2 separate regions of the Homo sapiens genome follow, and region 2 is linked to region 1. The links come from fine-mapping of genetic effects on gene expression. A gene starts in region 1. The other region holds a variant in brackets. All regions are shown on one strand. Distances are between the middles of the regions. Region 1 holds the start of HARS1 (histidyl-tRNA synthetase 1). Region 2 holds the start of HBEGF (heparin binding EGF like growth factor).

The links. PIP is the estimated chance that this variant, and not a neighbour inherited with it, causes the effect.
Region 2: its variant is fine-mapped to the expression of HARS1 in testis (GTEx, PIP 0.94).

Annotation. Positions count from the first base shown.
Region 1 is chr5:140,685,278-140,697,794 of GRCh38, reverse strand. It overlaps HARS1 (histidyl-tRNA synthetase 1), which reads left to right and starts at 6,425. Exons shown (of 13, transcript NM_002109.6): 1 at 6,425-6,580; 2 at 6,851-6,940. The coding sequence starts at 6,491. It overlaps HARS2 (histidyl-tRNA synthetase 2, mitochondrial), which reads right to left and starts at 6,340. Exons shown (of 13, transcript NM_012208.4): 1 at 6,039-6,340; 2 at 4,130-4,204; 3 at 3,741-3,860; 4 at 3,515-3,610; 5 at 2,162-2,287; 6 at 1,950-2,057; 7 at 1,594-1,692; 8 at 1,181-1,274; 9 at 725-852; 10 at 389-631; 11 at 110-226. The coding sequence starts at 6,146. RefSeq lists enhancers at 6,089-6,158, 6,239-6,328, 6,489-6,718 and promoters at 5,990-6,306, 6,371-6,397, 6,369-6,490, 6,040-6,490.
Region 2 is chr5:140,339,821-140,352,337 of GRCh38, reverse strand. It overlaps HBEGF (heparin binding EGF like growth factor), which reads left to right and starts at 5,735. Exons shown (of 6, transcript NM_001945.3): 1 at 5,735-6,055; 2 at 6,254-6,427; 3 at 9,526-9,703. The coding sequence starts at 6,010. RefSeq lists silencers at 5,451-5,500, 5,541-5,820. The variant C/T (reference allele first, on the strand shown) is at 5,962.

The DNA of each region.
Region 1 (12,517 bases):
CTAGCAGACTAAAAAGGTTTTGAGTTCCACCCCAGACATAAGATAGATATAGCCCTGGGTCCTAAATTCCACACATACCCAGATGGCTCAGATATCAGCTCCACCATACCTTGATTCCAGAATCCCAAAGCTCTGCAATAAGCTTCAACCGTTCTTGGAGAAAGTTCTTCTGTGGTGTGGCCACAAACACTTGAGTCTCTGTAGTCCGCACCTTCTCACCTTTGGTCTAATAAGAGAGAAGAAAGTAAAACTAATAAAAACCTCCTTTCCACCAGCAATTCCAAAAATCAAGACAAAAAGAATCATCAGAAAACCACTCCAACTACACCTCCAGAAACAGGAGGGTTTTTAGGTCTCCAGCCCCACCTCACACCTATCTAGGACCTACCTTCATCCTCTGCTCCACAATGTAGAAGATTCGCTCAACCCCAATGCTGAGTCCCACACATGGCACCTTGTGGCCCTTGGGGTCAAACATGCCCACCAGCCCATCATAGCGCCCACCAGCAGCCACACTGCCCACATTCAGGGGCTCCTCCCCAGCCTGAGTTGGGGTCTGCAGCAGCACTGCTTCATAGATCACTCCTGTATAGTAGTCTAGGCCCCGAGCCAGGCTGAGGTCAAAGGAGATCTGTGGGGACAAGATTACAGTCAGTCCCAAACTAGACTCGGGACCCTGAGAGCCCTAGAGCTCAGCAGGAGGTCCATTTGCAATTCAGCTTACCTTATCAGCAATTCCAAATAAAGTCAGGTATTCAAATAGCAGCTTTAGGTCTCCCAGGCCCTCCAGGGCCTGCTTGTTCTGGGATAGTCTGGGATCCTGAAACATTTGCTCTACTAGGGATACCCCACCTGGAGAGAAATAAAGTCTCTGCTGTTCACTCACATGTGTTTCATTCAAAATTATCCCTAATGTGCTCTAGCTAGTCTTCCTCATTTTCTTTAAAAAAAAAAAAAAAAAAAAAAGATCCCAGTCTCACATGACAAGACCCTCCTCCTTTGCCTCTAGCTTTGCCATCTGAAGACACAAAGTCGTTACAATAAGTAAAAGAGAAATTAAATTCAGGACAGGCCCTGGAGCTTAGCATATCTACAGAAAAGAGTTGTTTCAGAGGTAGAATTTGAGCACATGTCACCTTCAGCCTGGTTCTATCACAGCTCTGAAAACCCTGGTTCTTACCATGACACTGGACATAGTCCCCAATTCGATCAGCCACCTCAGGAGCCAGGCCTTTCTTCACCACCATCTCATGTCTCACATCTTTCCAAGCCATCTGCATAAACACCCAAACATTAGCCCAGCCCCAAGATCTTTCTTTCTCAAACTGAAAAAGGACAACTCAACTTCCATTCAGTATATACATCACAAGTAGCTAACTGTATACTCAGCAAAGTCAGAGACAGCTTAAGAAATCCAGTCACAATCCCCACTGTATAGCATGACTCAGATCTTCCTTCAGAGTATGCCTCCTTACCTTCCACCCCAAAATAGCCCACTTCCAGCCACAATCTCCTTATTTTTCACTAGTGGTATGGATTTGAGGGCAGGGCAGAAGCTAGATAGGGTCTACTGAAGTATGTCTTCTTTGTTACCTTGTCTAGTTTATCTATGGAGGAGCAGATGGCACGGAACTTGCTTTCAGGAACACCACAGACAGCAAACATCCCATCCACAATCCGCCGGTCATTTACCTGAGAACTCAATGTCAGTGACCCAAGTGCTTGTCAATGCCCTTCCACTCAAAACAATGGCAGTACCTACTTTCCTGACACACAAAAAGGATGGAAATTTCACAGGAAGAGTACAGACATATAGGAAATACAACAGCTTTACTAGGAAAGTCCTACAGTTGCAGGCTTAAGGGTTGGAGTCACCCAAGTTTGGGACTTGCATAAACAGTATTAGGCCAAATCCAGACTTCTCCCACAGTTCTCAGCCCTGGCCTCACCTTAATGAGAAAGTCTCCCAACTGCAATCCACTTAGGATTTCACACATGATCTTCAAACACTCTGCATCGGGGATCATAGGGTCAAACTGACCAGCAATGTCAAAATCCTACAGCAAAGAAAAAGATGGGAAAAAACATCCATTATCCAGCCAGTTTCAAGGTTGTGGCCCCTAGAACTATCAAACTGTGCTGCTCCCATCAGGTCACTTACACACTGGCAGAACTCCCTATAACGGCCTTGGACTATGGTTGGGCTCTCTCGCCGCCACACCTTTCCAACATGATAACGTTTCATCTTCTTCACCTTATTCATGGCCAGATAACGAGCAAAGGGAACCTCACATAAATGGGTTAAGGAAGAGGGATACTGCATCCAAAGATTAGGCCCAGTATACAGACATTAGGGAGGACTGGGCCTGGATCTCATCCACTAGGGTAAGAACAAGGACCTTCCCTTTTTTCCACTATCCCCAAGGCCTAGCAGTGCTTGGAATTCAATATATATTGAATAGTGTCAAATGAAGGAATCTCACCTAGCAAAACTAAAAGTTCAGCAGAAAGCAAGGCAAGTAGAGATAGAAGTGACCCAAGAACTAACTTCAGGTCTTTCTGCCCATTCAGATCGATTCCGAACCATCTCAAAATAGTCAAGCTTCAGAACTTGGATTTGCCTAACAACTTCTAAGCTACTGGTTCTGAAAGTGCAGGGAAAGGACTACATGCATCTTAATTACCCACGATGCTTGTTTAAAATGCAGACTGTAGGCCAGATGCAGTGGCTCACACCCGTAACCCCAGCACTTTAGGAGGCCAAGATGGGAGGATCACTTGAAACGATGAGTTTACAACCAGCCTGGGCAACAAAGACACCCATCTCCACAAAAAAAATTTTTTTTTTGAGACAGAGTTTTGCTCTTGTCACCCAGGCTGGAGTGCAATGGCGCAATCTCGGCTCACTGCAACCTCTGCCTCCTGGGTTCAAGTGATTCTCCTGCCTCAGCCTCCCTAGTAGCTGGGATTACAGGCACCTGCCACCACAGCCAGCTAACTTTTTACGTCAAAAGAGATCTGTGGAGACAAGGTGACAGTCAGTCCCAAACTAGACTCAGAACCTGAGAGCCCCAGAGCTCAGCAGGAGCTGAGTAGAGATGGGGTTTCACTATATTGGCCAGGCTGGTCTTGAACTCCTGACCTCAGGTGATCCACCTGCCTCAGCCTCCCAAAGGGCTTGGATTACAGGCGTGAGCCACGTGTCTGGCCAAAAAAAACAATTTTTTAATACAAATTATTGAGCCCCATTCCAGCTACAGAATTAGCTAAGAATCTCTGGGACTGCAGCCAAATGTCTGTGCTTCTGCAAGCTCCCCCAAAGGATTATGATACACACTAGAGTTAAATGACAGGGCTCCAGGCCAGGCTTCCGTAGCAGAACTGCCTTCTGGGAGAAACTAGAAGTATAGGCAATGGACCTCTAAGATCCCAAAGTCACGTTCTCCACTTTTGTCAGAGAAAGCCCGCTGGATTTGGAAAGAGACAGGTCAGGCTCCAGTACTCAAAAGGATACAGTAAGGTCATAGCGGAGGGACAACAGCTCTCCACCTTGATCCTTCAGATCATACATGAGCCCAGAGTCCTCTCCATACTTCTCAGTCAGGGTTTCCTATAGGGGTCAAACAGAATGAGCCACAGTTGAAAGCATGACTCCAAAACACAGATGAGAAGCCCTTTGGGACACTGAACGCCATTGAAGAAGTGAGTGAGGTTGCACGTACTCTTTCTTCTCCCCTTACCTTCAGCTCAAATGCTGGGGTGTCCATCCCCTTTGCTCCATGACGTTTAAAGCAGCTGATAACCAAATCAAGAATTTTCTCCCTCACAACCATATGCTGAGGACTAAGATCCCTGGTACCCTGGAAACCAAAAGCAGCCATAGTGAAAACAAAAACAAAAAATAAGTCCATTTCAGACAAGGAGTTAAACTACACTTATTATGTAATCTCAGGTCTGGAGCTGAAATCTACTGAGTTCAAATGACTCTGAGCCGCACCTAGTATCTCAAGAATAGTATATATTTTTAAAATTTACTGTAAAGAACATTAAAAGGGGTCAGAGAGACATGCAAGGCAGAGGTCAGTCCTCCAAGGCACTCTAATGGGATAGGGTAGGCAAAAAGTATTACCTTTGGGGTCTTGATAATAAAATTTGGTTTCTCTTGATGTGCTTTCAGTTGGGATGTTAACACTGCCTCTGCAACCTGGCAGAAGAATGAATGTGAGATGTGGCTTCTCTGGACACTGGCCAGACCTGTGGCATCTCTGACCCTGTTGACCACCAACCTGCAAAGACTCTTCACCCTGAGCAACAGGAAGCCAAAGCACCATTTCATCTATCCCAATCTCAGTCCCACCCCAAAGAATCTATGTTGTATTTACAATTACACGTGTAATATATATGAGGTCAGGTCTTCACCACACAAGCTTCCTCACTGTATATGGATTTTTTTTTTTTTTTTTGAGACAGAGTCTCGGTCTGTTGCCCAGGCTGGAGTACAGTGGCACAATCACGGCTCACTGCAATCTCTGCCTCCTGGTTCAAGCAATTCTCCTGCCTTAGCCTCCCGAGTAGCTGGGACTACAGGCGCGCCACCACCACGCCCAGCTAATTTTTGTATTTTTAGTAGAGATGGGGTTTCACCATGTTGGCCAGGCTGCTCTTGAACTCCTGACCTCGTGATCCAACCGCTTCAGCCTCCCAAAGTGCTGGGATTACAGACATGAGCCACCGAGCTCAGCCGCATTTTTAATATTCTCAAATACTTTAAGAATCTGAGAATAATGAAGGCACTGAACAACCCACCACTACCAACACCAACCATTCAGGGGTAGGGATTATGGTGATCTTCTCCAGGTCACCGTTCCTACTGAAAGAGCAAAAATAATTTTTTTTTTTTTTTCAGATAGAGTCTTACTCTGTCGCCCAGGCTGGAGTGCAGTGGCACGATCTCAGCTCCTGCAACCTCCGCCTCCCGGGTTCAAGCGATTCTCCTGTCTCTGCCTCCCGAGTAGCTGGGATTACAGGCACATGCCACCACGCCCGGCTAATTTTTGTATTTTTAGTAGATACGGGGTTTCGCCATACAGGTCAGGCTGGTCTCAAACTCCTGACCTCAGGTGATCCACCCCCCTTGGCCTCCCAAAGTGATGGGATTACAGGCATGAGCCACTGTGCCCGGACAAAAAAATAATAATTTTTAATAAGGTAGCACTGGTTATCAGGTTTAGAGAGAGGAAAACTGTAACTTGAAGACAAGGGAACCAGCTCAAGGACACAGAACAAGCCTGTGGAATGATAAGATATGGATTTCTTGAATGAGCTAAAAAACTCAGACTGATAAGATGCTGTGATTGAATATCAATAAAAGATCTGTGCCCTATTGTTCACGATAGCACAAAGCATCTGCTAAGAGAGCATTAGAATCTTTCCGAAGTAAGGCAAAACTTAATCAGTGACATTACCAGCACGCTGTATGCCCTTCCAAAAATAGAGGATGTGGTGGTTCCATACTATGGCGATTATCTGCCCTAAGAGAAGTCCAAGTTCAAGTACACAATCCCTTATCTGCAATTCCAAAATCCAAAACTCTCTGACATCTGAAAATGTTTTTCTGAGATTCATTTTGAGGTAAATTCTAAGATGAACTCAGTCTACTTCTGATCTTTAGTCATCTCATTTACTAGGAATATTCATATATTTCGCTTAAAAATGTTACTGTTTGAGTCCAAGAGTTTCAGGAAAAAGTGTGGATATGAATTAAAATACTCCCTTACTACATATCCGTGTATAAGTCATTCATTTAATCTTGCAGCCTCCGTTTCCTCAACTGCAGAATGGAAATCAAAACTCCAACCTCTCAAGATTGCTCCAAGGATTAAATGACCAGGCATCCAAATCGCTTAGTTCAGTGTCAGTACATAGTGGGCACTCGATAAAAACCGATTGTAACACTACTGGAATACAGGCCGCGAGGCTATGCGTTCAGATCTGGAGACCCTGCTGGGACAGACCAGAGATAATTCTGTCTCGCTCACCTGGCTTTGGCAACGGACCGCCCCGGTGCACGAAGCGCAGGGCGGTCGCAGGAGCTGGCTGAGCAGCGAAGCCCAGGCCCTCCTGGGAAGAAGTCCGAGCAGGGGCATCGCGCGGCAGGACGCCGGCTTTCCGGGACAGGAACAAAAGGCCTGGGAAGGAGGCGGGTCAGACACCAGGAAGGGTGGAGGGCACTGCAAAGGCGGAACCCGCGCACCAGGGAAAACTCGGGCGTTTGCGCACCTCACTAGTCACGAAGGCTGAGGTGGGATCCTCCCAAGTTCCCTTAGTAGCCAGCTTCGGCACTTCCGGGAGGAGCCGGAAATAATTTTTGTGCTCGGCGGAGGCTCTCTAGGCGTGCGACCCAGCGACTCGATAGCCGGAAGTCATCCTTGCTGAGGCTGGGGCAACCACCGCAGGTCGAGACAGCAGGCGGCTCAAGTGGACAGCCGGGATGGCAGAGCGTGCGGCGCTGGAGGAGCTGGTGAAACTTCAGGGAGAGCGCGTGCGAGGCCTCAAGCAGCAGAAGGCCAGCGCCGAGCTGGTGAGATTTAGGCAGCAGGGGAGAGGGCCAAGGCAAAGCCTGGGAGGACGTAAAGCCAGGGTGTTCGGGACATAGGGTAGAGATGTGAGGGAAGCGACCAGTCTTGTAGGGAGGAGAGTGGGCTGCGTGGGGAGACATCCGGGGTGGGTCCCGAGAGAAACAAAGCTAGGCCTGAGCAGAGAGATGTGATGAGGGAGGAATATTGAATGAATGGCGGGGGAGGGAGGAGAGTGACAGATGGATAGCTCAGCGCCTTCTTTCCCTCCACAGATCGAGGAGGAGGTGGCGAAACTCCTGAAACTGAAGGCACAGCTGGGTCCTGATGAAAGCAAACAGAAATTTGTGCTCAAAACCCCCAAGGTAATATCATTCCTGTAGGGAGCCACTGAGAAAGTCTCTAACTCTACTCACGGGGCGCTTATGTCTGCCTCCCTAAACCAGGTCATTGAGGAGGATCTGAAATGCTGCAGAGGAGAGGACAGTCGCTCTGGGCGCTGGGCTGGACTGGACTCTACCTGAGTCATTCTGGGATGGCAAAGTGATGGCAGAAACTAGGCCAGCTGGGTGATCAGGGGAGTCAGCCTGCTGCTGCTACTCCTTCGTTCATTCAATAAATGTGTATTTAGCGCTATGTCTCTAGCACTATACAAAGCACTGAATATATACCATGGTGGACAATATAGCCTACCCTCATGGAGCTTACATTCTACTGAAGGAGAGAGACTTAGAACAAATAATCCCACACAGATTTTTTTGTTTTTTTTTTAAACAGAGTATCCTCTGTTGCACAGGCTGGAGTGCAGTGGCACATCTTGGCTCACTGCAGCCGCTGCCTCCTGGGTTCAAGCGATTCTCCTGCTTCAGCCTCCTGAGTAGCTGGGACTACAGGTGCCCACCACCATGCCCAGCTAATTTTTGTATTTTTAGTAGAGACGGGGTTTCACCATATTGGCCAGGATGGTCTTGAACTTCTGACCTCAAGTGATCTGCCCGCCTCAGTCTCCCAAAGTGCTGGGATTACAGACGTGTGCCACCGCACCCGGCCACCACATGTGGTTATGTAATTACATATTGTGAAAAATGATATAAAGAAATTAAGGTTGCTCTGAGAAAAATAAGGGAGAACTGGGGAGTCTGAGAAAGGCTAACTGAGGAAGTGATATACTAACTGATCTAATGAATGAGTAGGAGATAGCCAGAGGACAAGTGTGACAAAGATAGGTCCAGGTAGAGTATGGAAACCCTAAAGTGGGAAAGAACTTTGGTAGTTTTGAGGAACTAGAGGATGATCTACATGGCTAGAACTAAGTTAAGGAGAGTAGAGTGGAATGAGGTTGGAGATTCTGAGCTCATCCTCCAGTTCAGTTCCACTTTCTGTAAGTTCTATAAACAGAACTGTTTACCCCTTCATCTAGGTGCTCTTGGCACTTCATACATATTTGTTATTACACCAACTTTAAGTAGTTATTTATGTCGTTTATTTACCCTGAGACTGAGACTAGATGCCTAAATAGGTATAGTCAGCCCTCCATATCCCAAGGTCCCACATTCACAGATTCAACCAACTGTGGATCAAAACCATTCAGGGGAAAAGAAACGATTAAGAAAAAAAATCTGGCTGAGTGTGGTGGCTTACACCTGTAATCCCAGCACTTTGGGAGGCCACAAGGGGAGGATCATTTGAGCCCAGGAGCTTGAGACCAGCCTGAGCAACATAGTGAGTCCCTATCTCTAAAAACAAACAAACAAATAAAAACCTTTTGAAATCTAACAATAAAAATTTCAAATAAAAAATATAGTATAGCAACTATTTACATAGCCTTTACATTGTCTAAGGCATTATAAACACTCTAGAGACTATTTAAAGTATATAGGAGGATGTGCATATAATTTTATGTCAAGGGCTTGAGCATCCATGGATTTTTGGTATTCACATGGGGCCCAGAACAAATCTCCTGTGGATACTGAGGGATGATTCTATTTAATACATGTATTTGAAATTGAATTCCAAAGGAGAGGGGAGATGGTCTGTTTTCCTTGTGTTAAGGTTAATTCTTTGGGATCCTAAATTCATTGAGCTGTTTCTTTCTACATATAACTAATTTTTGAAGGTTAAAGAGACAGTGTAAAATCCCAAAGTGGTGATCATCAATGATTTTTCAAACTATTAGATGAAAAGCTTACTGTGGAATTTATGATGGATCAGTCTGTCCTCACTAGTGATCAGTTTTAACATCACTAAAAGTAGGACAACTAGACATTATGTTCCTGCTGATGTGATGCAAGAAGAAGTACACAGCACCACCTGGGAAGTATTCTTGCCAAGTAAATTGAACTTGAATCTAATCAGATCTTTGGACTAACTATCAGTTTACAGGAAATACTAGAGATGGAGGAACATGTTAGATGGCACATCAAGCATATTGTTCACCAAATCTAGAATGTGAAAATTTTTTTTTAGGACAAATGGCCCAATTTCCTCAGTTAATAAATGACCTTTTTAAAATAAAAAAAAAAAGTTGGGGAGGGAAGGAAACTATTGTAGATTAAATAGACATATCAGCTGATTACAACGCATAGACTTCATTCTGAAGCTGATTCAAATAAATCAACCATAAAAAGATATTATTGAGGCAACTGGGGAAAACTGACCATGGCTTAGCATTAGATAATATTAAGGAGTTGCTGTTAGTTTTGTTAGTTATAATAAAGATAGAGTCTTTGGGGTTTTTTAAATGTCCGTATGAGTTAGAGATTCATACTGAAGTATTTATGGATGAAATGATATGACGTCTGGGATTTATTTAAAAATATGTAAGAAAAACATGTCAGGGCTTAAATGAAATAAGAATAGCAGATGTTAATGGTTGTTGAAGCTGGGTAATGGATAAATGGTGACCTGTAATACTATTCTCTATATTGTGTCTTTGAAAATTTCCATACTATAGTGTTAAGATTATGCTAGAGAGTTAATATCCATTTTAGTATTAACAATAGAAAACTCAGTATTGTGGGGACAAGACTCTTTCAAGGGATCTTCATGGTCAAAACTATTTCTATAATAATTCTTTTGTTTTGTTTTGTTTTGTTTTGTTTTGTTTTGTTTTGTTTGAGACGGAGTCTTGCTCTGTCGCCCAGGCTGGAGTGCAGTGGCGTGATCTCAGCTCACTGCAACCTCCGCCTCCCGGGTTCAAGCGATTGTCCTGCCTCAGCCTTCCGAGTAGCTGGGACTACAGGGATGTGCCACCGCACCTAGCTAATTTTTTGTATTTTTAGTACAGATGGGGTTTCACCGTGTTGGCTGCGCTGGTCTTGAATTCCTGGCCTCAAGTGATCCTCCCACCTCGGCCTCCTAAAGTGCTGGGATTACAGGCGTGAGCCACTGCGCCTGGCCCTTCTATAATAATTCTAAGACATTATCTGCCTTTTTCGTTGTGTTAACATTTGCACTGAAGGCACAAAAGCGCTGGTGAGTAGAACTGCTGGTGCCTTAGCATACATTAAGACAGTGACACTAAACTGTACTAATAGCCAGTGTGTTCTTCACTGCCATGCACTCACAGTAAGTAAATAAATAAATTAATTAATTAATTAATTTAAAAAATTCAGTTTTACTTAACTATGTCATTGATAAAATGGTAAAACTTTGTTTGTTTTGGGGTTTCTTTGGAGACAGAATCTCACTCTGTTGCCCAGGCTGGAGTTCAGTGTCACGATCTTGGCTCACTGCAGCCTCCACTTCCCGGGTTCAAGCAATTATTGTGCCTCAGCCTCCTGAGTATCTGGGATTACAGGCGGGTACCACCACATGCAGCTAATTTTTTGTATTTTTACAGAAATACAAAAAACATACAAGAAACCTACAACATGTTTCACCATGTTGCCCAGGCTGGTTTGGAACTCTTGAGCTCAGGCAATCTGCCCACCTTGGCCTCCCAAAGTGCTAGGCTGAGCCACCATGCCTGGCCAAAAACTTACTGATTTTATTGAATCTTGACCCTTGAGGACCCTATTTTTAAATATTTGCTATGACAAAATGGGAAGTACACATAAAGCACTTCTGCACGCCAAGGTAGGGAAAATGCTTATGCCATTGTTCAAGTTGCAAGCTGATCTAGCTACTTTTTTCATAGAACATCTTGTTTTATTTGAATTAACAACTGAAAGATAAATTATGGTTTTTCAAACTTAAATATTTGGCAGACATTTTTACAACAATAAACGAAGTGAGCCTCGTCACCTCAAGGAAAACATCTGACAGTACTTGTAGGCAGTGAAAAAATTCAAGTATTCAGGTGAAAGTTAGAATTTTAGAAAACTTAGTCAGGGCATGGTGGCTCAAGCCTATAATCCCAGCACTTTGGGAGACCAAGGCGGGCGGATCACCTGAGGTCGGGAGTTTGAGACCAACCTGACCAACATAGAGAAACCCCATCTCTACTAAAAATTAGCTGGGCGTGGTGGCGCATGCTTGTAATGCCAGCTACTAGGGAAGCTAAGGCACAAGAATCGCTTGAACCTGGGAAGCAGAGGTTGTGGTGAGCCGAGATCGCGTCATTGCACTCCAGCCTAGGCAACGAGTGAAACTACATCTCAAAAAAAAAAAAAAAAGAATTTTAGAAAACTTGCATCTTCCATCATAAGCTTGACAGCTTCCCAATAATTAAAGAGTTTTCTACTGGGTGTGGTGGCTTACGCCTGTAATCCCAGCACTTTGAGAGACCAAGGTGGGCGGATCACCTGAGGTCGGGAGTTTGAGACCAGCCTAGCCAACATGGTGAAACGCTGTCTCTACTAAAAATAAAAATTTAGCCAGGTATGGTAGCTCACGTCTGTAATCCCAGCTCCTTGGGAGGCTGAGGCAGGAGAATCGTTTGAACCTGGGAGGTGGAGGTTGCAGTGAGCCGAGAACACGCCACTGTACTCCAGCCTGGGTGACAGAGTGAGACTCCATCTCAAAAACAAACAAACAAATAAAAACAGGCCAGGCAAGGTGGCTCATGCCTGTAATCCAAGCACTTTGGGAAGCAGAGGCAAGTGGATCATGAGGTCAGGAGATCAAGACCATCCTGGCTAACATGGTGGAACCCCGTCTCTACTAAAAATACAAAAAATTTGCCGGGCGTGGTGGCACGCGCCTGTATGTAGTCCCAGTTACTCAGGAGGCTGAGGCAGGAGAATTATTTGAACCTGGGAGGTGGAGGTTGCAGTGAGCCGAGATCACACCACTGCACTTCAGCCTGGGTGACAGAGCGAGACTCCATCTCAAAAAAAAAAAAAAAAGACTTTCTTGATGAGATCTGAAGTGATGTAAATAAATAAGGCTTCCTGATATTGTATAATGAAATGTATCAACATTTGAAAGACCTGTTATGAAATCATGCACAGGCAAAGGATCCATTCATTCAAAGTACAAAATACAGTAGTGGATTTTTTTTTGTAGGAAAATATACGTAACATAAAATTTACCATTTTAATGATTTTTTTTTTTTTTTGAGACAGAGTCTCACTCTGTCACCAGGCTGGAGTGCAGTGGCATGACCTTGGCTCACTGCAGCCTCCACCTCCTGGGTTCAAGCAATTCTCCTGCCTCAGCGTCCCAGGTAGCTGGGACTACAGGTGTGTGCCACCACGCCCAGCTAATTTTTGTATTTTTTAGTAGAGATGGGGTTTCACCATGTTGGCCAGGATAGTCTCGATCTCTTGACCCCGTGATCCACCTGCCTTGGCCTCCCAAAGTGCTGGGATTACAGGTGTGAGCCACCACGCCCAGCCCATTTTAATGATTTTTAAGTGTACAGTTCAGTAACATGAAGTACATTCATACTCATAACCATCACCATTATCCACCTCCAGAATTTTTTCATCATCCCCAATTGAAACTCTGTACCCATTAAACAATAACTCCCCACTTCACCCTCCCTCCAGCCCCTGGTA
Region 2 (12,517 bases), 350 kb after region 1:
GTAATTAATATAAAAGATAAAATGATTTTTAAAATAACATTATTTCAATTGGCAAATGCCTGCTAACAACTACTCAGAAATCTCAATGAAGTAGCCCATTGATTACAATCACACAGATTTACCTTGAATGTCACAGCTATAAATACTGCCTGATAACAGGTGCATTGTATTGGTAGCTCAGATATCACCAAAATGAACAACTCACACTAATTTCATTCCTGGAAGTCATTGCAAAAACTCTTGTTATATTTTTGTGTAAATTAGAGATGATTCTAGGCTCAAGTTATTACAACCAAGCTTTTTACCGATATGTGTTTGGTAGGACACTCAAAAGCAGTCAGGTAATTTCCTGACCCCTTTTTCTCCCAAATGCCTGAGGACTCCCCAGTCAGTGACAACTAAATTCCTGAAATGTCCCCTAGGGGGCAGTATCTCTTTCTTTGCGAACCATTGTCTTAGACCAACCCTTAGTTAAAAAAACGAGCAAATGGATAATGTGAAATTGTTAAATTGCAGACCTGCAACTGCATTTCTAAGAGTAACCGAACTTGTACATTCCTGGTACAGAATGTGATGTGACCACATTCCAAGGTTAAGCACCAGAAAAGTTAACAGGAGCTCTGACGTATTTATATAGGGCTTTTCATTTTGCCAAGCACTTCAGAGATGCTATCTCCTTCAGTTGTCACAAGAACCTCCTAAGTAGATTGTTATTCTCCCCACTTATAGACGAAGAAGCTGAGACACAGAGAGAAAGGTTATCACATCCTGTAAATCAGGCACTGTCAATTGTTATAGAATTGTCTCCCCAAGTCTTTTTTTTTTTTTTTTTTTTGAGACGGAGTCTTGCTTTGTCGCCCAGTCTAGAGTGCAGTGGTGCCATCACAGCTCACCGCAACCTGCACCTCCCAGGCTCAAGTGATTCTCCTGCCTCAGCCTCCTGAGTAGCTGGGATAACAGGTGCCTGCCACAACGCTCGGCTAATTTTTGTACTAATAAATAGAGACAGGGTTTTGCCATGTTGGCCAGGCTGGTCTCGAACTCCTGACCTCAGGTGATTTGCCCACCTCAGCCTCCCAAAGGGCTGGGATTACAGGCATGAGCCACCGCGCCCAGCCTCCTCAAGTCTTTTGACAGCAACATGACAGCAAATAATTCATGATGGACATACTGGCCGGTGCCTGAATGCAGGGTAATTGTTTCAAGTTCTCATTTTTCACTTGAGGAATCTGAGGCTTGAAGAGAGAGATGGGTGTGTAATGAGGGAGGAATCACTTTCTCTCTGTGCTGGCCAACACAGAGGGGATGGCTGTAGGGGCAAAGTCCTTGGTCTGGAGATGTTAATCATTCAAAGTCACAAAAATGGGACCAGAAATAGAGAAGGATGGTTTGGGATCCAGCACATTATAAATATTCCTTCCTCAACATCTTCTGGAGATGACAGGGATTCCTGAAACCCCCTCACCTCCAAAAGCCTCCCCCTATCTCATCCATTCCTATCCTTCATCCTATTCAAATAGATCCTAGCCCCAAACAATCAGACAGCAGAGCCTGTTCATCCCTGAATATGCATGAAGCACGCTACTTCCAGGTGCCCAGCCAGCATAAGAAGGTACACGGGGGCTCCAAAGGGCAGGCCTGAATTCTAATCTAATCCAGCTGTATGCCCAAACTGTTTGATTAACTGTCTCAGATGGGGTGAGAGAAGCCAGCCTGGGCCAAGAAGCAATGACCCCTCATCCTGACATTCCAAGTTTGGGTAACTCTGGGCTCATGGTCAGACCTACCCTTAATGGAGGTGCCCTTCTTTACCCCTCTCCCCAACGCAGCAGAGTTCAAGGGCTGTGCAGGATTCACTTCTGGTCAGAGGGGAATGAGAAGGCAGCTGAATCCTCTCCCCCAGGGGGCACAGCTTCCCTCTGACCTCTGAGCCTGAGTTGCTTTTTTGGGTTGAGGTTTCCAAAACTCTGGGTGGCCTTGCAGATCTAGCATCTCTTTGATAAGCATGGCCATCTCCCAGAAAGGAACACTTCATCTCTGAGGATGGCTAGCTCATGATAAACCAACATTTTATTCAAGTTCCCACTTAAAAAGAAAAAGGAAAGAAAGCAAGAAAAAAATTTGGTCATAATAACCGCTGTCATTGAGTAAGTACCTACTATGTGCCAGGCATCATATTCCGCTTTATACACATGATCTGACTGAATCATCACAAAAGCCCTATAATAATAACTACTATTATTGTCCCCACTTTTCAGGTGAGCAAACTGTAGGTAAGAGAAATTGAATAACATGTTCAAAGTTAGAAAGAAAAAAAAACCAACAAAATTTGAACCCCCAAGTATCTGACTCCCAAGACTGTATCCATTTCATTAGCTGCCCTGCTGTGCTTACCTAAGCATCCTTCCAGTCTAGTGAGCCAGAGTTTCTTATTATCCCTCAGAACAGATGAAGGACTGAAACTCAGTAAAACTGATAATGTTACCCTCCACAGAAGCATAGAGATGGCGGCTGTCGTCTCATCCATTTGAGTGTTGAGCTTAGGAGAGCACAAGCCCAAGTGAACGAGGGGGTTTCAAATTGAGGCTGAGACACTCACTAGCTGGGTGACCTTGGGATGTTACCTTTTAAAGCTTCAATCCTTTAAAATGCAGATGATGATAACAGTGTCTAGTTTGGGGGATGTTGTGAGGATCAAGCAAGATAATGCATGTGCAGTGTTGATTACAGGGGAATTGTCACCACTAGCACCGCTTTCTTCCAGGTCCTCCCCACTGGGGAGCAAGTGCTCTCTCCAAATCAAGAACTCTGGCCTAGCAGTGAGTCAGCAGCACTCAGAGTCCCATGGAGCCTGCCTTTCCAGAGGCCCAGGAAACTCGCATGGGCTGGGAAGCAGGATGCCAGGGTTTCTGCTCTGCACTTGCCCCCTTCTGACTCACTGGTGGCCCAGGGCTAATCAGTCTCCAAGCCTCAGTTTGCTCATGGTCAATAGACAGTCAATAAAAGCAGGCTTGTCTGTCTGAACTCTACTTCCTTAGGACTATGTTCCTGGCATTTGACAACCTGACATCCAGAGAGCAGGTGGGGGAGACCTGAGCAGGAGGAGGGGACAATATGGAGGAATCCTGCATGACAGTGCTGTCTCATTGACATCTCATATGATTCTGACAATAATGGGGCATAAAATCCAGTGTCTACCTTGGCTTATAACGTCCTCTTTTATCTGTTGCTAGCCTTTGTTCCAATATCATCCCATATCTCTCCTTTTTTGGCCCTCTTGCTTTTCCTTGAATGCTCCCAACTTTTTTCCATTTCAGAGTCTTTGCACTATTTGCACATCTTGGAATGCTTTTGTCATAGATGATCCCAAATCTGATTTCTTCTTCTCATTCAGGCCTCAGCTTACATGTCACCTGCTCAGAGAAGGCTTTGCTAATCAGTTTAAAGTGTCATCCTGGGCACTGGAACATATTATCCTACAGCACATCATTGTATTTTAACTTTCATCTTAGCAGTTATCACTATAGGATATGTTTTTCCTTGTTTATTTCCTTAATGTGCTGCCTGTCTACTATAGAATATAAGCTCTGTGAAAGCAGGTCCTGGGCTGTCTTATTTATTTCTATGTCCCCAGTGCCCCCCAAAAATGTTCAGTTAATGTTTATGATATAATTGAGTTAATGAGATTGCCTCAGCATGAATTGTGATTCCTTTTCTTTGCTCAGAGACATCCAAGATTCTGAGAGGGGAAGTGACTGTCCCAAATCCAATTCAAGCTTTTTATCTTCTTTTTTCAGGCCCTTCCTGTAAAACCTGGCTGACACACAAACCTAGCTGGGGTGAGGCTCCAGGTGTGATGAAAGTTTGGAGTTGCCCCATGAATGGGACTGAGGCTGATGTGGGGGTGAGAAGGCGGAAGGACAGAGCATGTGAAGGGAGAAAGGCAGGCTGGGGCAAGAGAGCAGGGTGTGACTCTGGCGAGGGTGGGGGAAAGGGGGTGATTTGACCATGTGTCAGGAAGTGTTTCTCTCCACCCTCCCCTGGGGAGAGCCTTGACCCCAAGGTGGCTTTGTTTTGGGGAAGCAGGTGGCCAGGCAGCTGCTGAGGGAGGGCAAAGTCATGGCTTGGGCGGTGACCATGCACTGAGGTCCTAGGCCCGATACTCATCACCCAAAAGGATAATCTAACAGTGGCTCTTAGCCAAATAGGTGACAGGTGAGCTTCTGTCTGAAACCAGCCCAACTATATCATAAAGCCTCAGATATGGCCTAGGGGAAGGCAAGCGATCTAGAGAAGTGAGAGAAAAGAGGCCTCTAAGGAAATAGAGTGGTCAAGTGCTTAGTGATTATTATTAACAGCAACAATAATAATGGGTCACATTTATTGAGAGCTTATAGTGTGCCTGGCACTATACTAACTACTTTTATGTGTTCCCGCATTCATTTCTCAAAAAGCTCCCTACAAAGTAGTCATTATTATTATTGTTATTATTTTTTCCATTTGAGAGACGTCAAAACTGAGGCTCAGTGAAATTAAGTTTCTTGTCCAAGGTCACACAGTAAGTAGCAAAGGCAGGATTCAAACTCAGGTCTGTAGTGATTCCAGTGCACTATGGAAACCTAGGCCTAGGTTACTGGAGCAAGTTAAGAGGGCAGGGCCAGACTGACCCCTGCAAAGGTGGGGATAGGGAGGGACAGTGGGATAGACTGTGTATAAATAGCAGGCCTGTTTTTATCCCTACACACAGGCAGAATCCGGCAAGTGCTCTATCTGGCACAATTTCAGGGCTCTGAAAGCCAACCCAGCCCTGTGTCAAACAACTCTCTCCCCAGCACGTCCCTGGAAACTGAAATACCTACTGAGACACTCATTTCTTTGGGTCAGGACAGTGACTCCAGAAGACCCCTGCAAAAGCACATGGGTTGGAAGAGAAACACCTAGTGTCTGTGAAACAGCAATCTAGGTTAGCCAGCTGGGTCCTATGGGAGGGTGGCTCATTTTTTATGTTGAGGAAAAAGGTGGCAGTCAAAGGCAAGGAAAAGAATAAGGCTTGTTTCACAACCTGTGTCTCTCCAATCTCAGAAGCCTGGGAATTACAACCCATAGTTCAAAAATCCTAATGTCCCCTGAGGGAAGATGGGAGGAAGCCACTCCAGAGACTAAGAGAGTACTAACTTCCTTTGCTTTTGCTGGATTGATACTAAGTGCCTGCAACTTCAACTCTGGTTATCTCGGGTTTATGAGAACGGCTGGCATTCACGTGTCTAATTTTTAAATGATAGATGAATTAATTATTATTTGATACTTGCCGTGTTGGTAGGCCAAAAGGTGGGCTTCTGAAACTTAGAGGGTGACAGGGATGGAGACCCCTGGTATGGGGCTTAGATGAAGCAAGAGGCCAGGCCCGGAACAGAACTCAGCTCAGCAGTCAGTCACAAGGCTGCAGAGTGACAGGCGTTTGGGGAAAGGTAGGAACCGCTCTCCGCCACCTGCCGGTCAGTAGCCCTACCCACAATCAGGCCGCGGCTGCCTCGGCCTGGTCCCAAAAATTGTGAACGCCGCCCTCTCCTCCCGCCCAGTCCTCCGCCGCGCCCGCGGGGTCGGGGGCTGCGCTGCCGGCGCCGCGAGCCGGGCGAGCTTCCCAGCACGGGAGGAGGGAGGGGGCGGCGCCGGGCGGGGCGGAGCTTCCGCGCCTCCTGGAGCCTTATTCCCGGCCGCGAGCCGGGCAGCGCTCATTCGGCCGAAGGAGCTACGCGGGCCACGCTGCTGGCTGGCCTGACCTAGGCGCGCGGGGTCGGGCGGCCGCGCGGGCGGGCTGAGTGAGCAAGACAAGACACTCAAGAAGAGCGAGCTGCGCCTGGGTCCCGGCCAGGCTTGCACGCAGAGGCGGGCGGCAGACGGTGCCCGGCGGAATCTCCTGAGCTCCGCCGCCCAGCTCTGGTGCCAGCGCCCAGTGGCCGC[C/T]GCTTCGAAAGTGACTGGTGCCTCGCCGCCTCCTCTCGGTGCGGGACCATGAAGCTGCTGCCGTCGGTGGTGCTGAAGCTCTTTCTGGCTGCAGGTAAGAGGGCTGCCGACGCCCCCGGAGATCGGGGGGATGGGGGCGTTGTGCTGGGGGCATGGGGGAAGGTCGCCGCAGCGCACCCGGCACGGGCCACTTGGTGGGGCCCTTGCGCTCTGGCGGACGGGCGTCGGCATCGGTGCGTGTTGGTCAGGGGTCTGGGCGGGTGTCTGATGCGGCCTGGCCTCTCGCCCGCAGTTCTCTCGGCACTGGTGACTGGCGAGAGCCTGGAGCGGCTTCGGAGAGGGCTAGCTGCTGGAACCAGCAACCCGGACCCTCCCACTGTATCCACGGACCAGCTGCTACCCCTAGGAGGCGGCCGGGACCGGAAAGTCCGTGACTTGCAAGAGGCAGATCTGGACCTTTTGAGAGGTGGGTGTGGAGGCCCCCCATCCTTGGACCTTGGTGGGCTGTTGAAGAATAAGCAGATCCAAGATTCTTGCTGTTTGGGCAATACTGTGGGTTGAGGGTATTCATGGAGAACCTCGGGGAAAAGCTGATCGGCCTGATGGGCACTGGGGGATCCTGGAATATAGGTCCCACTCTCTCTCTCTTGTCATTGCCTCACCTGCTGGGTTGCTGCCCTTCTGGGTACTCCGGGGCAAATTGAATCAGACGTGTTGTCTGGGGTTGTTACGTTCTTCTTAGGTAAGCTGGGTGATAGGAACAAGGAATGGTTGAGATGCTTTCCCTAGAGCTACTATGTAAAAATGGGCGCCAGTTCTAATTCCCATATCAAATGACTATTATATATAAAATAGAGGTAACACATGCGGAGATGCCCAGGCACATCTCTAGAAAGTGTGCAGTGTTGGCCTCCTCCATCCACCTGTCTCCAGATTGGGGAAACAGAGGGGAATGAGGAGCTCTTGGCCGCCCTAGATGAGGCTGTGAATGGTGAGCACTGAGCCCCTAGGGGGCTGTATTAAAATGCTGGATATCTGTGAATGCTACCGGAAACCTGCAGCTTACTGAGCACCTTGCATTCCTGAGGAGACTCCAAATGGGGAGGGCTGTGTAGGATCCTCCAACCAGCCTCTTTGGCTGTGGCCAAGTACAGGTACAGGGCAGAGTCCAGAGCCTGCCAGCTCTCCTGCCTCCAAACCTGAGGAGATTATCCAGAGTAGAGCAAGGACTCAGCACTGTACCCTGGAATGACTATATTTGGTTGGACAGATGCCCACCTGTTCTAGTTCCACCTGCTCCTCAGCTGCCCTTCTCCCTCATTCCCAGGAGCTTTCCTTGGATACTCTCTCTACTTTGTATAAATCAAGCACATACTCCAAAACTGAGCCTGGGCTCCCATACTTCATCCTCTCCCAGTGGCCCTCTGGGGTTGCCCATGACCTGAACAGCCTGGATTCTCCTGGCCCTCTCCTCCTAGGCTGGGCAGGGCTGGGCTGTGACTCACCCCACCCCCACCCCCCACCCACACGGCTGCTCCTCTTACCTCTGCAGACCTGACTCACTGCTCCCTGTCCATGGCAGGAGCCTGGCTGTCACCCTGCACCTTCTCCCTCCCCTTTCTGATTGGCTTGGCCCCCCTGCCTTGCTCTCCCCGAAGCTCTGGTCACTGGGTTCCTCTGACCACCTGTATCACCTTCTGAGCTCTGAGGGGGCCTGGGACTGGATGAGAGGAAATGAAAGACTGTGGGGGCTGCTGGCACCTACTTCTCTTCCCTTCTTTTGGCTTTGCTGGGCAAGGACTATTTTTCAGGTCTGGGGATCCTACCACCTAAAATAAATGACTGCTACCATTTATTAAATTCCTACTGTGTTCTAGGCACTTGATATGTTATCCTGGCTAATGTAACACTTATAGCAACCTTTTGAGATAGTTACTTTGGCTATCCACATTTTACTGAGAACCTGAGGTTCAGAGGAGTTAAGTGACTGCCCACAGTAAATAGCTGAAATTGGAGCACAGGTCTATGGACTTCAGAGCCCATTCATGCCTGGATCAGCATCTCAGGTGCTCTAGACTTGTGAGAGGGAGGAGATGGGAGTGTGTGAGGCAGCTTGGTGTGGTGAGGAAGGACATTGGAGTGAAGTCCAGAGAACACAGTTCTAATCCCAATCCTGCATGACCTTGAGTAAGTCACTCTGCCTGCCATGAGTTTTTTCTTTTTTTCTTTTTTTTTTTTTTAAACATAGTCTCACTCTGTCACCCAGGCTGGAGTGCAATGGCACGATCTCAGCTCACTGCAATCTCTGCCTCCCAGGTTCAAGTGATTCTCCTGCCTCAGCCTCCTGAGTAGCTGCGATAACAGGCACACACCACCACGCCCGGCTAATTTTTGTATTTTTTGTAGAGATGAGATTTTTGCCATGTTGGCAAGGCTGGTCTCGAACTCCCGACCTCAGGTGATCCACCTGCCTCAGCCTCCCAAAGTGTTGGGATTACAGGCGTGAGCCACCGTGCCTGGCCACATGGTATTCTTTGAAGTCCCTCTAGCTTGAGACTCTAAGTCTCTAGTCTAACGTATCATGCTTACCCTTCTGTAAGACACATGGCTGTAGCCATGGATGTGGGCACCTTTTTCCTGATGGGGGATAAAAGGGTGGGATTGGGCTGATAGGCATAGTCCCTGGTCAATCCCAGCTGGATATCTGGGTGAGGCTGTTTTTCCCCCAGTCTCTCTGAAGCATGGAAAGAAGGAGGGAGTCATCATTGTTCCAGTTCCTTCTGGACAGTTCCTTACTTTCCATTTTTCTATCCCTTGTACACCCTGTACCCCCCAATCCAGAGAGCTATAAACAGGACATTGGGGGTTAAATATGAATGAATCTTTGAGAAAGTGGGTGAGCTGTAAAGGGTATGCAAGTTAAATATTTTGCTTGAAGTTGAAAAAGCAAGGCCGTGACCAGGGCTGGCCTGCTTGCTGTTCCTGAGCCAGGCTCTGCCCTGGGCTCATAGTACTAAGGGGTGCCCCAGAAGAGACCACCTGAACACATGGACACTGTTCTTATATTAGGAGCCCTCCAACCCCAGAACCTCCAAGTACCTTCTCTAGAAGCAATTTTTGTGTGTGACACTGTCTTTCTGCAAGTGGTTCACTGAGTACAGCATCAGGAAATGAGGCTGATTGAAGGCCAAAATAGAATGAAGTGGGTGTGGGGGAGTAGGAGATGGGGGTGTAAGGTGGACAGTGGGGTGGAGGTGAGGTTGGTAGAATTGCCCAGTTACTCAACAAAAGCATTCTGAGAATGAGGCTCTTACACAGAGACTGTGAAATGCCTTCCTTGGGACCCACCCTAGCTTCTACTTCCTACCGAGGTTCCCTCTTTCTGGTGGTTCTGCCCAATCTTCCTGCTCTTCCTTCTGCCTCTTAGGAGGCACTGAGCTAAGGGGCCTTCCCAGATCTCTGACTTCAGGTGGAATCAAAGCATATATACTCCTTTCAAGCACTATGCTCTTCTGATTTTCTTCCCAAAGAGTCAGACTTTAACAGAGTGCTTTTCTCCTACAGTCACTTTATCCTCCAAGCCACAAGCACTGGCCACACCAAACAAGGAGGAGCACGGGAAAAGAAAGAAGAAAGGCAAGGGGCTAGGGAAGAAGAGGGACCCATGTCTTCGGAAATACAAGGACTTCTGCATCCATGGAGAATGCAAATATGTGAAGGAGCTCCGGGCTCCCTCCTGCATGTAAGTGCCCCTTCCCCAGGGCTGAATCTCATCAGCACACTTTGTCAGCCACGTGGCTGTTCCTCGTTGTCACTGTTCCTTGAATTCATAATTTCACCCAGTTTCTTCTCAACCTCTGGGCGGAAGTTGGGAGGAGGGGAAATATATTTTTAGTCAGCGGAAGCCCCCTCCCCCCTATAGGATGCAATTTCCTGTGGTATGGTTTTGTGACGTGCTTTAATCCTTGGGGACATTTCCTGCTTGCCCAGAAATGAGCATGTGGCTAGGACAGCTGGCACCTGAAGGCAGGCCCTTAATTCTTGCCTGATGCCCTACTCTGGGAGGGAGAAGCCAGTAGGAAACATGGCAGAGTGGGCTTCCAGGGCAGAGTAGAGCTCCTGTGGGAAGGTAGGAAGTGCATTTGGATGCATGATGTATAGGTATGTGTGTATTTGGGTTTATGTGCATGTAAGTGTGCAAATGTGGATTGACTGTGAGGCATGGCAGGACTGTACAGAGAGGGATCATCATGGCGGCAGGTTGAGGCCTCTCTTTCTTCTTCCTTATCCCAGCAAGGACGAGGAGGTGGGAGACATGGAGAGTACTGGCCTTTGGCCACGTTGTGAGAGAACAATTCCTTTGTGCAGGGTTCACAGGAAATGGAACCTGACCCATTAGGCATCAGCCCCCGGTCAGGCAACATCACCCCTTCCCTGGGTAGGTGTGTGGGTGGAGGGGCTGTGGGTTCCTTAGCCTCTCTCCTAAGCCAAACCCAGCAAACGGCTGCCTTGGCAACCCCTCAGGGATGACAGCACTGCCATGCTCTCTGGCAGGCATAATGTTGCCACTGTGCCTGAGGCCAACACCCTGCGTCAGGCTGCAAACATCCATTCCCTTCCCTGTGGGGAGGGAGGCTCTGGGGGCCTTAGTGGGAGACTCTGGACAGGGCCAAGAGACTGTTGTATGCACACTGCCTCCAGCCTGTCAAGAAGGCGGCGTGCCTGGCATCCCTTCTACTGGTGATTGGTGCAGATCCCTTAGCTTTTTAAAGCTTCCTTGTTTTGTCTGATCACACACAGCAGAGCTGCCCTGTATTTGGCAGTTGGCAGACAGACCCATCACTCCCCACCATGTCCACAGTCACTTGTGCATCCTTTCCTATAACATCCTTGTCAGGAGCTTGGTATTAGAGGGAGTTGTTTAAGAGTGGCATAGAAAGCCCCCATATTATCCTTCCCAAGGTCTTGGGACAGGGTGGGAAATGTTCATCTTAAATTTGTAAAATGGCATCATTAGTACAGGGTGAAGAAGGTGACTCAAGTAGTCAAGGTGGATTGAGGTCAGGAATCTGTCTATACCAGATTGGTCCTGGGCATTTTGGTGGATGGATGTGGGGCTTGCACTGTGTGGTTGAGAGGCCTTATAAGGTTGCCCTCCTGGAGAGCTGGACTCGGATGACCACCTAAACCCAGAGAACCTGATATGGGTGCCCAGGCCACCTTCCCAGTGGTCCCTAGGGATAGTGATAACTATAATGATGTCATATCTCCTTTGTCCCAGAGTTTCAGTGTTTATATATAATATGAGTTGAGCCCAAGTATGTTGAGCCCCTATTTGGTGGCAGACACTACTTTAGGAGCTGGAGAGATATAGTTTCCTGGGATTTTTCAAAAGCCCTCTGCTGAGTAGGCAGGACTTGGTACCTCTACTTGAAAGGTGATGAAACTGGAGCCAGAAAATAGGAAGTAATTTGCCTGAGGTCAATAGCTAAATAAGTAGTTGGAAATAAGACAGAGTCTCAGTACCTGACTCCTAGTCCAACATGCTTTTCATGCCCTCAAGCTGTACTGGGTGTTGGCTTTCATCTTTCTTTCCTGTATCTGTCCTTATAGAGTTGGAGCAGCATTTTATAGAGGGCAGAGGGCAGCTGTTGTCCTAGAGGTCTCTTATTCTTTTACTAGTCTAACAGCACAGCAATCTGATTTGAAAACTTTACATTAACTTCTTGGGCAGAATTTTCTTTTTCTTTGTTCTTTTCTTTCTTTCTTTCTTTTTTTTTTTTTTTTTTTTTTTGAGACAGAGTCTCACTCTGTCTCCCATGCTGGGGTGCAGTGGTGTGATCTCAGCTCACTGCAACCTCTGCCTCCTGGGTTCAAGCAATTCTCCTGCCTCAGCCTCCTAAGTGGCTGGGACTACAGGCACCTGCCACCATGCCGAATTAATAATTTTTATATTTTTAGTAGAGACGTAGTTTTGCCGTGTTGGCCAGGCTGGTCTTGAACTCTTGACCTCAGGTGATCCGCCTGCCTCAGCCTCCCAAAGTGCTGGGATTACAGGCATGAGCCACCATATCTAGCCTTTTTTTTTTTTGAGATGGAATCTCGCTCTGTCACCCAGGCTGGAGTGCAGTGACACAATCTCGGCTCTCTGCAGCCTCCGCCTCCCAGATTAAAGTGATTTTCCTGCTTCAGCCTCCTGAGCAGCTGGTATTACAGGCACATGCCCCCACATCTGGCTAATTTTTAAATTTTTGTGGAGATGGGGTTTCACCATGTTGGCCAGGCTGGTCTTGAACTCCTAACCTCAAGTAATCAGCCTGCCTTGGACTCCCAAAGTGCTGGGATTACAGGCGTGGGCCACCACTTCCTGGGCAGATTTTCAGGGGGTTGATTGCATGTCTGGACTGGCCCCCTACTGCCTCCTGCCCTTGCTACTCAGGGCAGAAAGCAGCAAGAAGACAGAAATCCTGGTTTGGGGGAATGTGACATCTGTGCACGTTCATCTGGGGATCTTTGTGGCTCTTGTTTGACTCCAGACCCAGGAACCACTAGCCAG